Regions from separate parts of the Homo sapiens genome. Here region 2 is linked to region 1. The links come from fine-mapping of genetic effects on gene expression. A gene starts in region 1. The other region holds a variant in brackets. All regions are shown on one strand. Distances are between the middles of the regions.

Region 1 (8,340 bases):
TGAAGAGATGGGGTCTTACTATGTTGCCCAGGCTGGTCATTGTACTCTTGGCCTCAAGTGATCATCCTGCTTAAGCTTCCCAAAGCACTGGGATTACAGGAATGAGCTCACAATAATTCTATGTTTAACTTTTTGTGGAACTACCAAATTGTCTTCCACAGGAGCCACACCATTTCACATTCCCATCAGCAGTACGACAGGGTTCTAATTTCTACACATCTCCACACAAAAACCAACACTTGTTTTTGTGTTTTGTTTTGTTTTTTGATGATAGCCCTTCTAGTAGGTGTGAAGTGGTATGTCATTGTGGCTTTGATTTGCATTTCCCTAATGACTAATCACAGTAAGTTTCCTTCCATGTGCTTTTAGGCCATTAGTATATTTTTGGAGTAATGTCTACTCAGATCCTTTGCCTATTTCTGAATTGGGTTGTGTGGAGTTTTTTGTTGTTGAGTTGTAGGGGGTCTTTATAATATTGATGCCTTATCAGATATATGACTTGCAAGTATTTCTCCCATTTGCTGTGCTGTCTTTTCACTCTTTTGATAGTGCCCTTTGATGCATAACAGTTTTTAATTTTGATAAAGTCCAATTTAGCTATTTTTCTCCTGTTGCCTGTGCTTTTGGTGTCATACCCAAGAAGTTTTCTTCTAAAAGTTTTATAGTTTTAGCTTTTACATATAGGTCTCCAATCAATTTTGAGTTAATTTTTATATATGATATAATGTAAGGCTCCAACTTCATTCATTTGCACATGGATATGCAGTTTTCCCAGCATCATTTGTTGAAAAGACTGTCCTTTCCTCCTTTCCCCATTGAATGGCCTTGGCATCCTTGTCAAAAATCAATGGACCATATATGTAAGAGTTTATATCTTGGCTCTCTATTCTATTCCATTGGTCTACATGTTTGTCCTTATGCTGTGTATTAGGCTGTTCTTGCACTGCTGTAAATACCTGAGACTGGGTAATTTATAAAGAAAAGCGATTTAATTGGCTCACAGTTCTGCAGGCTGTACAGGAAGCATGGTGTTGGCATCTACTCAGCTTCTGGGGAGGCCTCAGGGAGCTTTTACTCATGGTGGAAGGCAAAGTGAGAGCAGGCATCTCACATGGCGACAACCAGATAGGGAGAGAGAGAGAGAGAGAGTGGGATGGCGGAGTTGCCACACACTTTTAGATGACCAGAGCTCACTTATCACAAAGGGGATGGCCCAGGCCATTCATGAGGGATCCGCCCCCTATGACCAAAACACCTACCACTAGGACCCACCTCTAATATTGGGGATTATATTTCAACATGAGATTTGGGTGGGGACAAACATCCAAACTATATCATGCTGGTGTTTTTCATTTGTTTGTTTTTTGTTTTTTTTTTTAATAAAAGATTGTAGTGTTCTGCCATTATCCTGTCATTACATAATTCTAAAATTAAAAAAGAAACATATATCCTTATCATTGCCTGTTTCTGTCAAGCTCAATAAATGTCCTTAATGGTTCATAGTATTGTAAAATTACTGTGTCAAAAATGCTTAAGCATTTGTCAAAGGCCTCTTACTCCTCCTTTGCATTCACTGCTAGTAGGCATTGCCCTGGACTTTACTCTGATTGAGTAAAAGCCAAAGTCCTTTTATTGAAATGGCCAAGGTCCTGCATATTCTGGCCATTCACTGCACACCCACCTGACTGGCTGCATTTCCCGATTCTCATTCTTGCTTCCTTATTGTTCCTCCAACATACCAATACAGTACTCCTGCCCATAACCACCTTGTCTAAATAACAACCTTGACAGAGCAGGTGCATCACCATCATGGACAAGCACTGCCATTTTAAAGTTCCCCTTGATCAAAAACCACCTAAATCCAAACAGCATCAGCCTAATGGCTAAGGTCAGCATGACCATACACCACAAATGACATCTCCGACCAGAAACATTCCAACCCTAAGATAAACCCCTCCCTGACCAGAGACATGCGAGCCCCGAGATAACCTCCCCTCCGACAGAGACATTCCAACTTGGCAATAAACTTCTTCTCCAAACAGAAACATTCCACGCCTGTGATAAGCTCTCTCACTCTAAAATCCTTAAATACTCTTAGTCTGTAAGAGAGTGCTCCTGACCGAAATCGGCCAGAAGCCCCTCTTAGGTTTATTCTTCCAAATAACACTGTCTGACTGTTGAGCTGCTATTAGTGTTTCTTTCCTCTTTCTTTAACTCTTACAAACTCCTTGCCCCATCTCCCATAGCTCCTGGCTCAACCTCCTGAGTAGCTGGGACCACAGACATGTACCATCTTGCCTGGCTAATTTTCTATTTTTTGAAGAGTTAGGGGGCAGTTCTCACTTTGTTGCCCAGGCTGGTCTTGAACTCCTGGGCTTAAGAAATCCTACTGCCTCGGCCTCCCAAAGTGCTGGGGTTACAGGAATGAGCCACCACGCCTGACCCCTATTTCTTCATGGCATTTGTCAGTGGCTGACACCCTACGTATTTATCTAATTTTTGTTTGTTCTCCCAACACGACTGGAATGTGAGCTTTATAAGGGCAATGACTCAGCAATGAAGAATGAATAGGAAAAAATATAGCGAGTTCTTTATTCATTCATTCAAATTACTATTTATTGAGAACTTACTGTAGACTAGACACAGAAAACACTTTCGACATTAAACATATAGAACTTGTTAAATAGTTATGTTTTGTTCAGTGGTTGTACAAATCTAAAATTAACAATTAAAAGTGTGTGTGTGTTTTTTAAGGGGTGGGTGGGTAGGAAGTCTCACAGATGGCGAGTCCAGAGCAGAAGCCTTGAAGGAAAATCAAGGTGTCAAAGGCAGAGCACACTGCCCCTTAGCTATTGCTCAGTGCACCAGGGTGGAGAGCTGCTGCCAGCCTATTAGATCCTCTCTCCAGGGAATTCAGAATGTGGATTGATCCAAGCTAGTCATTCCCTACTGATCTTTCAAACAGAGGTGAGGCACGCCCGTATGGAGAGCAGTTTCTTTAGCTTGCACAAACCCTGTGTTCGTCACCAGTGTCCAGGACAGGCTGCAGGTGTGGCTGGGGACTGTGATCTTCTTGTAGGGCCTCCTTAGGGATTGTGCAACCACAAAGGCAGAAGCAGCTCTTGCAGAGTGTGATGACGTTCACAACCTATATTTGACTTGTACTATATTCTCATCACTACAGGAGAAGAGGCCCAATGGGAAATGTGTGCTGTTCTAAATATAGCACCTGCCTCCTATACCTGCTAGATTTAGGTTGAATCTTTCACTGCCTGTGAAGGACTTTAGCAGGCCTCAGTGACCGGAAAGATCTACCCACGCTTTCAAGCACAGGAAGGACGGTATTGGAAGGCCTTGGGGTCCAGCCCAGGGCTTAAAGTCAGTTCCATTGGAATGCCATTTTCAGAGAGTTTTCATCCCAGACTCTCCAAGGGTGGCAGGCTCTTGTATCAGCCCTGGGACATGTGTCCTCTAGCAGTCAGGTAGTTAGGCAGGCACCTGTCTATCAATTTGTTGTTTTTCTTCTCAGTTTTCCGGTAAGACTACCCCGAGCTCTTCAATGTTTTCTTTGCTTTTGTTTACATTGAGTGTATGACGCGGGATGGGCTTCGTAGGCTGGTTGTGGGTTATTACAGCTTCCCAGGAAGGGGAGAAACCCAATTCTTGCCAGCACGTGGTGGGCGCAGGCGCTCATAAATACTTAGGAATAAATGAATGTATAAGTGAGTGCATGAATGGGTGAGTGGACACGAAGCTTTCAAGGTGGGTGCAGGGAGGTGGGGGTGTGAAGAGCCATCGAGGCTACCCTGCGGCCCTGGCCCCCAGGCTATCCCGCGACGCGCGTCCACGCCGACCAGCGGAAGGTGCCCAGCCAGTGGGGGCGGGGCGAGCTAGCCGCGAGGACGCGCCCGCGGGGGGGCGGGGCTAAGAGGACGCGCCGGGAGCAGCGGAGCGACGAGGACAGGCCGCGGGGAGGGGCGGGGCCACGGGGGGTGCGCCGGGCGGAAGGGGCGGGAAGAGGGCGGGCCCGGCGCGCGGTAGCGCGGGCCCCTCAGTGCACAATGGCTAGAGCAGGCGGCGGAGCCCCAACCCCACCCAGTGCGGAGCGCGCCGCGAGCCCCGCCGCAAGCTGAGCGCCTCCGCCCGCCAGGCGCGCCGGCGCCGGGCCATGTACTCGGGGAACCGCAGCGGCGGCCACGGCTACTGGGACGGCGGCGGGGCCGCGGGCGCTGAGGGGCCGGCGCCGGCGGGGACACTGAGCCCCGCGCCCCTCTTCAGCCCCGGCACCTACGAGCGCCTGGCGCTGCTGCTGGGCTCCATTGGGCTGCTGGGCGTCGGCAACAACCTGCTGGTGCTCGTCCTCTACTACAAGTTCCAGCGGCTCCGCACTCCCACTCACCTCCTCCTGGTCAACATCAGCCTCAGCGACCTGCTGGTGTCCCTCTTCGGGGTCACCTTTACCTTCGTGTCCTGCCTGAGGAACGGCTGGGTGTGGGACACCGTGGGCTGCGTGTGGGACGGGTTTAGCGGCAGCCTCTTCGGTGAGTTGGACTGGGAGAAGGCAGCCTCCCCTCTGCAAACTTCCACTCCCCACCCCGCTGCCCGCTCCGTGCGTCCGCCCCCCAGCCCGCCCCGCACCGCTTCCCGCTCGGCCCCGCGCCCCCCGCCCTACACCGCCCCGCTCCCCGCTCGCCTCCTCAACGCTGCCCGACCCCAGCCGCATGGCGGGTGCCTTCCTCTTCCTCCGTCCCCTCCCGCCCCACGCTGTCCAGGACTCCATTCCTGTGGTCTCTCATCTGCCCCCCACGTTGACCCCAAACCCCGGCCCGCCTCCTTTCTTATTTGTTTTTACCTCCTAAGATCACTCAACAAGGCACGAAACCACGGCTTTTTACACTTTGAGGAAAGAGACGAGGGCCTGTAGAGTCAAGAGATTCAAGAAAAAAAGTGATTAACTCGTGAAAGTTGGAGGGAGTGATGAGATTAGATTCATGTACTACTATTTGTTTCCTAAAATGAGAGTAGAAAACCAAAATAACAATGTGTAAAAAAAAATTCTCATTAGTACTTGTAAACCTTTGAATGCTTTCTAGGGAATGAGACAGTTTCATTCAGGTCCTCAGAATGCAAATTGGCATGTGCCCTGTAAGCTGTTTTTACTATTTTCCGTCTTATAGATGGGTTCCAGCACACCAGAATCTTGGGTGAGATTACAAATGGCTCAGCCAATACCATCTCAGGTGAACAAATACTGTAATTAGCTCTGCAATCGGTAGATTTCATTAAAGTAGAACTTCATTGTTGAAGATGTATTTCGACAGTACTCTTATTATGGAAGATTTAAGTTTCACTGAGACATGATGTTTTGAAGGATGATCAACAACTCAGCAAATCATTGAAGGAAGCGTAGAAAGGAAATTATTTTTTTGTGTGCCTCAGGAATTTCATTTGTAGGGAGATTTGAAATAGAAATGTGTATTTCTCAAGGCTTAAAGTTCCTTTTTTAAATCCTGAAATCCATTGATACTTTATTGCTTTAATCTTGGTAGGTTTGGGAGAACAAAAATCTTTGTAGAATTATCAAAAATATTTTCTTATTCAGTAACCTCTATGCTATGACAAACCCAAATATTATATTTGTAATGATTCATTTTTTGGCGTTTTGAAGGAAATAAGAAAATAGATTTTATTTGATTGCTTCAGAGGTTATAATATTTTCCTCCCCGCCCCTCATAAGCTTTAATCTGATAATTTCATTTGAACAAACATTTGAAATTTAGGGAGGGGACTGCAAGTGTATGTAGGCTGTGGTATGGACGACTATGGGATTACACTCCTTATATTAATTGTAAAATACCTATCAGGCAGTTTCTTCGGCAATGCTAAGAAGGTTATTCAAGCCCAAGCCTAAAGTATCATCAGTAGTGTTCTCCAGGGTAGTCAACAGGTGTTTGTTCACAGACATCAAAGTTCTTTTTTCCTTGAAGTGCCTTTTCTGTGCTGGAAAATTCTGTTTTCGTGCCCGGGAGTTTGAACACAAGGGTGTACTGAGTTCTTTATAAGTGCTAGCTGTCATCCACCCTCTTCCTCACCTCTTTCCTCTGCTGATCCCACCCTCCTGTGTCTCCTGGTCACTTCTCCCTTCCTGTTTTTCTTCTTCACCATCCCTCCTAGGGTCCCAGCCCAGTGATTTTCTAAGTTCACTTAGATTTTTGCCTGAGGGCTGCCCTATTTTTCAGGGCATTTAGTGCTTTCAACCATGACTTTCTCCCTGTTTTTAATGTAGAGGTGGAAACCCTGAGATAAGAGATTCCGAGACTTAAGCCCTGGGGGGCAAGTTAGTAGTGAAGTTACTATAGAGTTTAAAAAGTTTTTAGCGAAGATGATTTCTTTGCCTGGAGTAAATTCCGGAGTTTGTGCTTCTAGATCCAGGTTAAGGATGAAGAAAAGGAGGGCACTTCCTGAGTTATCCCTGAGCAAGAACTACCTAACAGTGGAGTATTGAAGGGGAGGAAGTTAAAAATGAGGGAAGTAGCTTCTTGATGCAGAGGCTTTTGGAGAGGCTTGCCCTATCTGTTGGAAAGACCATTGGTCTGATGGCACAAGAGTGGATCCTGTTCCTTATCCTGCGACTCATGCATTGTGCGGGCTTTCTCAAGTCACTTAATCTCTCCAGCTATCAGTTCTCTCATCTCTATTATTGGGTAATTCAGCTTAATGCTCTGTAAGGCCATCCTACTTGCTTTGCATTTTGATGACCCCTTTGATATCTGTAGGTTAGAACGTGCCTGATCTTAGCGCTTATTGATTGTGTCTTCTGCTCCTACTCCTACCCTGAGCCCTGTCTTTCTAAGCCAAGAAGCAGCATGTACTATGGTTACACCTCTTCAGATACCATCATAGATTCAGTCTCCATCTTCACACCCTGCTGGAAGAAGCAGAATAAGTAATTCAGACATACTTATATTTATACTTGAGTGGGCCAGGCAACTGCTGCATTCTGTACTTAGTTCCTGGCTTCTTAGGGAATGCCAAAAATGAGTGGAATCCTTGATATTTTTGAGACAGAGGCTTTGACTAGACAGGACTGTTAGGATTGCCATTTTAGTTAAACTAAAGGTGTGTGCCCTATGCAATTTAATCTAAGTTCCAATTGAATGGCTTGTTTTTCCAGTATCCAGGATTATTAGTCATCTTGGGCTAGACAGGTACAGCTTGTACTGATTTATATTTCAGTAGGTTTAACAGTAGTGAAAACCAGAGCTCAAAACTGTGCAATGATGAATATTAGAAAGTTTAGCAGTATTGTTGCTTTAGCCTAAAGACTTTCAGGTGAGTATGCTCTTCAGCACCTTGGCCTTTCTACCTCTGGCCACACAGGGCATCACACAGATGTCTTCCGCACATGGAATGTAACCAGCATTATGCTCAAAGTTAACAGGAGAACCTTATTATTTTTTTTTTTTTAAACTTCCCCTTCAAAAATAAGAACAAACAGTGTTAGTCTTGGCAGAGGATGTTTAGATAGACCTTTTGCTTGGGATGCAGAGATTCAGGGTTGCAGAGACAGTGGCGAAATGCAAACATCACTGTATTCAAATGTTAGAAGTAGGTATTATTTATGTTAAGATATTTTAATATGAAATCAGAAGTTTTCCTTTTTTACTTACACTTACACACTTTTTTCCTTTATTACTTATATGCATGTGTACATTCATATAATATTTTTAATACATTTTCCTCCTCAGGGCTATTATGAGCCTAAATATTTTTAAATGGCCAGTTGTTTTACTGAATTAATCCTTTTGTAATAATCTGACTAGTAATTGAGTAGAAATAGTCTCATGTTGCTACCATGAGATCCTAAGGGTGGTTGTGGCATGGAAAGGTCTTATATTCAGCTGTTCTGGAATCACACATAGACTGTAATGGCCACAGAAATATTTTGAATCATGGCAGTATGCACATAGTTTATAATCTGTTTCTATAAACAGTGGAGCCATGCGTTCCTTTTAGTCTAAGCTCACAGCTGTGTATAGATTTATTCACATGATAGTTTTCTTAAAAGCTAAAGTTAGAGAATTGTATTATGTTATTTCTTCTTTATTTTTGTGGAACATTATGTTCATTCTCTATTACTATGTTGCCTGATTCTTGGGAGGGCTGTTATATCTCTATTGTCCATTCTCAAGAAATTAGAAAATATGTGAGAAAGCATTTAAGACATGCTTTAGTAGAGGTTTATGTCCAAATAAGATGTCACACTCCAATGGATTGTCATTGTTGCATGAAATTATTTTTCTCTTATATTGTTTACAATGTATTCTTTCTTGAATTTTC
Region 2 (8,340 bases), 100 kb after region 1:
CATTTGTCAACTACTTTTGACTTAATGAAGCGTATAACACCTTCCCTAATCCTTAAGAATCATGAATGTTTCTGAGTTTTCTGTCTATCTAACTTTTAAAAAGCTTGTTAATAGTGTTGAAATCCATATTTGGTCATGAAACTATAGTTTGACGTCTCAAGATTTTGATCTTTGGGTATATCAATGCAATGAGAAGAATCAGACTGTTAACTCTACTTACAATGCAATAAGCACATCAGTGTCTTCATACTTTGTTAGTAAATATTACATCTTCCAGAATTGCATATGTTATGCCAAATATTGTTTTATTATTTAATCCTTACCCTGAGTTCTCTAATCTGTGTCATCTGGAATTGATCTCTAAAGCCAAGCAGTGGTCTTGATTTTCCCTCTTATGAGAAGGTGAATGATGCACATTCCTGAGTGCTCTTAAGAAAATTTATGACTTTTACTCTAGTCTTGATCTTCGTCCTGAACTCCATCTGTGACTACTGAACCTGTCTATAGGCATCTCCCTCTCAACATAGCTAAAAGTTGACTTATTCCCATTCCTCAGCCCTCTCATTCTCCTTCTTCTGTATTCTGTATTCCATAAACTTTCTTCCTCCTTATATATTTCATATCTTAGAGAATAGCAATTGCATTCACTAATTCACCCAACCAGGGTAGCTCGGTGAATATTTAACACCCCTCTCTACCTACCAGTATACATGAAGCTAGGCAATACGTCCTATTGATTGTTCCTCTTCAGTCTCTCTCACAGCAGATCTTCTGCTACCCACAGCTCTGTCCTTACATGGGGCCCTCATTAGCTTTTACCAGGCTACTGCAACCGTTTTCTAATAACCCTCTTTCCCCAGTCTGTATGCATTCAATCTGTACTCTGCACTAGAACTAGTCATCTTCTTTTTATTTTCTTTTTAGACAGGGTCTTGTTCTGTCACCCAGGCAGGCATGCAAGGCTGAGATCATAGTTCACTGCAACCTTGAACTCCTGGGTTCAAGTGATCTCCTGCCTTGGCCTCCCAAGTAGCTGTGATTACAGGTGTGCTGCTATGCCTGGCTAATTTTTTTAATTTTTGTAGAGACAGGATCTTGCTATGTTGCCAAGGCTGGTCTCAAACCCCTGGGTTCATGTGATCCTTCTGCCTCGGCCCCCCAAACAGCTGAGATTATAGGCATGAACCATCATGCCCAATCACTAATTATCTTCTAAATAAGATGTTGAATGATTATTTTTGTCTTACAGTTGTTTATTAGCTCCTTATCTTTTCAGGAAAAAATTCCAAATTTTCAATATGACATAATGGATTCTTACATGTGATCCCAACCTCTTTCTCCAGTTCATTATGCACTATTCTCATGCACTATCTCATGCACTATTCTCTTGCACCATCTGTAATAGGCATACTAAATTTACTATATGTTTTCTGAATATGCCATGCACTTTTATTCTTCCATGCCTTTGAATACTATCCTTCCCTGCCTTATATTCAGTTTTTGGAAAATGCCTACCTTTCCTTTAAGACTCATATCCTCAGTGTAGTTTTTCCTGATACCTCTACTCCTCCAAAAGACTTGTTTGCCTTTTCTTCTGTAATTATATATATATATGTATATAGATGTGTTTTAATGTCTCAAGTACATTGAATTATTTATTTATAGTCTTGTCTGACTTCCACCAGGCAGTAAATTCCCAGAGAGGAATAATATTTGCATGGCTTGTATTTTGTCTTTTTATCTCTGATATAAACCACAAATTCTAATGAATTAGAAAATACAGGTAAATGTGAAGAAAAAAATAATTCCTCACAATTTTACCACCAATGGCAACCAATATTAACATTTTCTATGTATATAAAATACATGATATTTCTTTTCAAAATGGTAACAGGTTGTATATTTTCTTTCATAATTTCTTTCAAAAAATGAAAAGTGTACTCTAAATACATTTCCACGTCAAAAGATGTCTGAAGTAAAAGCATTTAATACTTGCATTACATTTGATTGTAGGCAGTGTGCTTATATTTGGATATTCAAGTTATTTTAATTCTTTAGCATTATAGACAATTGTATGACGCATACACGTTTCTTTTGATAAAATCTCACTAATGAAATGGCCCACCAAAGGGCAATTTTGAATAAAAGGGATTGAAACACTGGCCAATTCCGAGCTCCACACCCTCCTTCTACCTGCCCCGTTGGCTCCTGGGCCTTATTACTAGTGGGGGAATGGAGTAAGGATAACAGGGGAATGAGAAAACAAAGAGGGAAAGAAGAGAGTCTGAAGTGAGCTGCGGAGAGAATATTGATGGTCTAGAGCGTAAGAGGAGCCTGCTCAATCTTCCTTTGTCTTGCTTTTGGAATAACTGCAAAGCACACGAAAGAGATTCAGATTGACTGGGGCAATATCATTTCAGAAGGTTTTGTTGGGAGTTTTGAATACACTCCAGATTTGATGTTTTTGAGAGCCTACATTAGATTCTATTTGCTTTTAATTTCTCATTGGCTGAAGGACAGTTGTTACTCTGAATGCAATGCCATGCTTAGGCCAACTTCAAGGGTGAAGTAGCTATTGCTGCTTTCTGGAATTTTTTTGAGACGGAGTCTCACTCCGTTGCCCAGACTGGAATGCAGTGGCACGATCTCAGCTCACTGAAACCTTTGCCTCCCAGGTTCAAGCAATTCTCCTGCCTCAGCCTCCCGAATAACTGGGACTACAGGCACACACTGCCATGCCTGGCTAATTTTTTTGTGTTTCAGTAGAGATGGGGTTTCACTGTGTTACCCAGACTGGTCTCGAACTCTTGAGCTCAGGCAATCCACCCACCTCGGACTCCCAAAGTGCTAGGATTACAGGCCTGAGCCACCGTGCCCAGCCAAATCCCCACTATTTTTAAGACTACAGATGTGTATATTTTCAAGTTGTTTTCCAGGAAAAAAATACCGGCTTAGATTACCATCAACAGTGTATGAGGGTGCTCTTTTTCTTTGAGTAGACAGATAGAGGACTAGACGAATGCATGAGTGAATATGGACAGAAGGGAAATAATCTGAGAGTATTTGGGAGGAGGATGCGCCAAATGAGAAGGAATGAAAGACACACTCTTTGTAGGCACTTAACAAAGTCTGGAGCTGTCTAAAGTTGTTGGTTCCATTCCAGATACTTCCCACCAGATAGCAAATGAAGGAATCTCTGAGGGATGAATTCCCTGAGGTGAGAGTGGGATTTATGAGGCACAGCCACAAAGAAATCCATTCCACCTCTGTTTTTAGAAGGTGCTAGATATGGGCCACTAATGAGAGTTTTTCATATTTAAGAAGGCTCAGAGCCTATGAAATAGAAAACTGAAACCCAGGTCTAACATGGTGAGGCCCACCAAACAGCCTGCCTTGCTTGCTTTTTATTGCTTACTTCTAGTTGATCTCAAAGCCCATATAGCTAAAAGTCATGTAGCCAAACAATATACATCTAATCTGTCACTAGCTTCCTTATAGACAACGTCTCTGGCATGTATGTCACTATGGTAATAGTTGCTTAAAGTTTTTGTTTTTGTTTTTGTTTTCAGGAACTAGGTGTTCTTACCCAAGTTAAACTACTTGAAAGAGACCACCAACCCTCTTTCTACCTTGCCCATTGACTCCTGGGCCTTATTACTATGGAGTAAGGATAATAGGAGAATGAGAAAGCAGATAGAAGAAGGAAAGAAGAGAGTTGCAGGCCCTTCAACTGGGCCTGCACAAATGCCCAAGAAGTGACTTTCTGATACCAGAAGGCCAAAAACCTCACCTTCACAGCATGCTAATGCCACCATTTTCTGAACATGTGTCCTATGAAGAGTCATGAACCTTGATTATGCATGCTCAGACCACCTATTCATTTTTCCCCACTGCTAATCACCTTCCCCACACCTTAGACCACCCTGCTTCTTTACCCCATAAATATCTCTAAGCCCTATCTTTGGAGAGGTGGATTTGAAAGCTGTTCTTCCATCTCCTTGCTGGGCTGTCCTGTGAATAAAATCTTCTCTTTACTGCAAAACTTGTTGATATGGTTTGGTTGTGTCCCCACCCAAATCTCATCTTGAATTGTAGCTTCCATAATCCTCATGTGTTGTGGGAGGGACCCAGCGGTAGGTAATTGAATCATGGGATTGGGTCTTTCCCATGCTGTTCTCGTGATAGTGAATGAGTCTCATGAAATCTGATGATTTTATAAAGGAGAGTTCCCCTGCATGCCGTCTCTTGCCTGCCACCATGTAAGACATGCCTTTTGCCTTTCACCATCATCATGAGACCTCCCCAGTCACGTGGAACTGAGTCCATTAAACCTCTTTTTCTTTATAAATTGCCCAGTCTCAGGTAGGTCTTTATCAGCAACATGAAAACGGATTAATACACTTGTTATCTCAGTAACTGACTTACTGCATGCTGGGCAGAACAAGCCTAGTTTGGTATCAAAACAAGAGTAGAGCAAATAGAGCTTAGTTTATTTTCACATTGATAAAATAATAACAATAAAGGTTAACAGTAATTATGTCTTTTTCATGGTATAGCTCATTAATATTTGCAAAAAATATAAAGTATGCACTTGAATCAAATTCTGTGTAGACCTCAACCCAGGATTATAAGCCATTTGATGGTTCATATGCACTGAGGACGTTTACTTCAGGGAAAGTGAAAATTCTGGGTGACATTTGATTTCTTTTTTTAGAAAGGAGTAGGTTGAGAACAAAGCTAGAGATCTGTGAGCGAGAAAGTGTGAAAAAGAAGCAGTA[G/A]AATTTTAGTGTTAAAAGACTAGCAATCTAGTTTTAGTCCAAGAGGAAGAAACTGAGACCCATAGGGTAAGATTTCCTGAGTGTCCAGCTGGTTGCAAACTCTGCTATTCCCAGTCCCCTCAATGAATAATGTTTTTTCCATCCCATGAAGCTGAGTGAAGAGTAAGTGGTGAGGTGGAAAAATCCTAAGAAGAACAGAACAGAAACACCATTTGGGGACAGTTTGGCATCAAGACCATTTTGAGCCTATAAATCCATGACAGGATTTAACATCTATAGCTGTGAGACATAAACTCTCATAGAGTCAAGGTCAAGTTGCCTCAAAAGCAATTTCATCAGCAGAGGCCACTGACTTGACTTGAATTCCAGGGGGCAGGGCACAATTATCAACAATAAGTCAAAATACGTACAAATCTCCTCACCCTCTAAATACTACTAAATGGAGAACTTTCCTGGGTCAAACATAGGGAGAGTAGATCACAAAGCTCTCTACAGTGGGGTTTCTTTTTTGCAGAAAGGAACAGAAGAAATATTTGAATGATATCCTAAAATACATCTCCAAAATACATGCTAGAATAGTGGACATACATTGCAACAGCAGGAGTCAGCTGAGACTGGAATGCTTAATAGCCCTCTTACCAAGGCTCTTGGCTTCAGTCAAAAAATGGTGTCTTGAGTAGCTTTAGCTGTCACTGAAATGGTGCCTTTTTGCTCTGATCACTTTCGTCATACCTGTAAACACTGAAAACAGTTATCAAAAGCAGTATTTTCTGAGTCTTAAGGACTGAATTCAGATGTGGATTAAGGACACTTGTTTAGCTTAGATGGCCTTTGTTTACTTCTCTGGCTTGTCTACTTCTCTCTCACTTCATAAAGAAAAGAAAACATATCACTCTAACATGAAGTAAGGCAGTTTGTATGGCAGTTTTTTTGTAATGCAGGTTTTTTTTGAAATGATGTGCTAGAATTGAAAAGCTACACTGTAGAACTCCTTCCAGCATGCAAAATTGAGATTATTTTCCAAATCCTTTTTTAAGTTACTCATTGAAAGGACTACATTCCTCATGACATAATTGTGTTAAAAAAAAAACTCTTTAAAAATTTCCCATAACTTCTAAAGGAGTGATTCTCCACTTTGTTCTGAAATCAAACTCATGCACAGAAAATATTTTAGTGTGGCTCACATTATAAGGCACTGGGAAACCTTTATAAAGGTAGCAGGAGCCAAAGATAAAATAATCTTTAGATCTACGAAGTAAAAAGCTTCTATGGGGAATAAACTATGCATAACAAAATTTTAATAGAAGGCAGCATTTGATAATGACAAACAAAGCCCTGTGGGCATTTAAAGAGAGGAGAAGCCTTCACAGGTTGATTGTCCTGCAGTTACCTTCTGGAACTAGCAGGAGGTAATCCCATTGGCTGGAGAAGGGATGGGGGAGTTGTAATTCACACAAGGAGGAAAATATCAGTCAATACAGGGGTCTTTCTAAATATTTAGGTCAATGTTCTTGAAATGCTATTTTAACATCTTTTCCCACTTGTTTTTCAATATTTAAACTTTACCTGGTTTATGATTATGGTTTAGTTTCTTTTACCTTTTGTTTCTCATTAGGAGTTTTTTTACTGGTTTGTTGATCTCTTTGACTGAACATGTCTTCAAAGAAAGGAAATCAACTGGTTTAACCCAATATCAGATGATCACTACATCAGAGCAAGAATAACTTCTCAGGGTGACTTTTCATTAGGCAAGTTTACTAGACATGGTAAGCTACCACTGATAAGAATTGAGGGAAGTTCACTATATTTTTTGGATGTCTAAGTAAAGGTTCTCAACTCTCATTTTTTTTTCTAGGGGCCAGGGGAGAGCCTTTAATGTGTTAGACAGTATAAGGTACTGGGATATGGTTTATGGAAAGGAGGAGGTAGGAAGGGAGGGTGGAAAAAAAAACAGAAGAAGATGGGCAAAAATGTAATCTTGTCCTCTATGTAAAGACATTAACCTTCTTGAATTGCTCTATTTAGTCAATACTTTTAAAAATAATTTTCTCAATATTCAAACATGCATCTGTTATTATTTTTTCACCTTTATATCATTAAGTTTTCTCATTCCTCTCATTTATTCATCCACCCAATACATAATGTTAGGCATAATTACAGCCTCTGGAATACATTGGTTAATAAGAGTTTATATCCTAGTTGGAGTAGATATCTAAGAAACAGGTTAAAAAAAAAAACCCAAAGTGTGTAATTTCCGATACTGGTAGATAAGATTAACAAATAAAAAGGGAAAGGGGTGAAGCCAGAAAGGCAGATAGGCTTAGTTCAGACAAGACCTTTGGTAAAGAGTTTGGGTTTTATTTTATTTGTAATGGGAGATCATTGGAAGATTTTAAGCAGGGGATGATAATGATCAGACTCATGTTTTAGAAGGGTGTTTCTGGCTGTGGTGTGTAGTATGGACTATAAGGGAAAAGGAGTTAAAGCTGGGAGACTAATTTGGAGCTTGTTGCAGGAATAAGGATGGCGGATGATAATGGCTTGGGCCAGGATGGTTGTAATGGCTAGAATTTAAATGTATTTTGGATATAGAGCCTCAAGGCTTACTGATGGAGTGAAAGAAGAATAAGCGTTTGCACAAAATGACAATAGGAATCAAACATGATGCGTAAGCATGGACTTGAACAATAGGATGGATAGAATTCTTTTGCAGAGGAATTTTAGTTGCTCCCTAATACGCAAGTAGTAATTTTTGTCTCCTATTTTCCAGCATATGTATGACGTGGTTACATGATGACAATCTCATGTTATTCAGGGAGAAATCCATGGATGACACCCACATTTTTATGCCCCCCAAAACCATATATACAATCACATATTTGTTATCTCTCCCTTGGATTTCTAAGAGACAATTTTTAAAATGAGACATCACTGCTGCCACCTTAGTCCAAGTCTTGAGCTAACGTAACAGCCTCCTAACTGGTCTATCTTGTCATCTTAAAATGTTCCTAGTCATTCTCCACATAATGGTCCAAGGGACCTTTTAAAATCACAACTTAATTTCCTGCCTAAAATCCTCCAATAGTTTCCCATTGTAATTTGAACAAAATCTGATCTTCTTGCCTGGACCTCTAAGATCCTACAAGATCTGGTCTGTCAGCTTTTCTGGCCTCATCAGCTACTCTTCTCTGGCCTCAGGCAGTTCCTGCCTTTCTTTCTGCTCCTTGAACTTGGGCAGCTCATTATTGCCTGAGGGTTTCTCTTCCTGCTGTTCCCTCTGCCTGAAATGCTCTTTCTCAAGATCTTCACGTAGTTAGTTCTATCTGATCATTCAGGTCTCTGGTCACATGTCCCTTCAGCAGAGCAGCTGTCCCTGACCACATTCTAAACAGGTACTCCCAAAGATACTCTCTACAGCACTACCCTGTTTTCGTTTCTTTCATAGTGCTTCTCTTTAACTGAAATTGTCTTATTTGTTTTCTTCTTCCTTGTCTTTTTCTTCTCTGGAATTCTCACCCTCGCATCCCTACTACCTAAAACAATATTGGTACATAGTAATCAG

The links. PIP is the estimated chance that this variant, and not a neighbour inherited with it, causes the effect.
Region 2: its variant is fine-mapped to the expression of CHML in whole blood (INTERVAL, PIP above 0.99).

What each region holds. Positions count from the first base shown.
Region 1 is chr1:241,636,083-241,644,422 of GRCh38, reverse strand. CHML (CHM like Rab escort protein) reads left to right here and starts at 4,054. Exons shown (of 2, transcript NM_001381853.1): 1 at 4,054-4,541. OPN3 (opsin 3) reads left to right here and starts at 4,054. Exons shown (of 4, transcript NM_014322.3): 1 at 4,054-4,541. The coding sequence starts at 4,169. RefSeq lists silencers at 3,725-4,304, 4,635-4,684 and enhancers at 3,787-4,356, 4,357-4,927.
Region 2 is chr1:241,533,642-241,541,981 of GRCh38, reverse strand. All of the region lies in intron 1 of KMO (kynurenine 3-monooxygenase), which reads right to left. Among named protein-coding and RNA genes, the nearest start is that of KMO, 5.4 kb to the right of the region's middle. The variant G/A (reference allele first, on the strand shown) is at 4,779.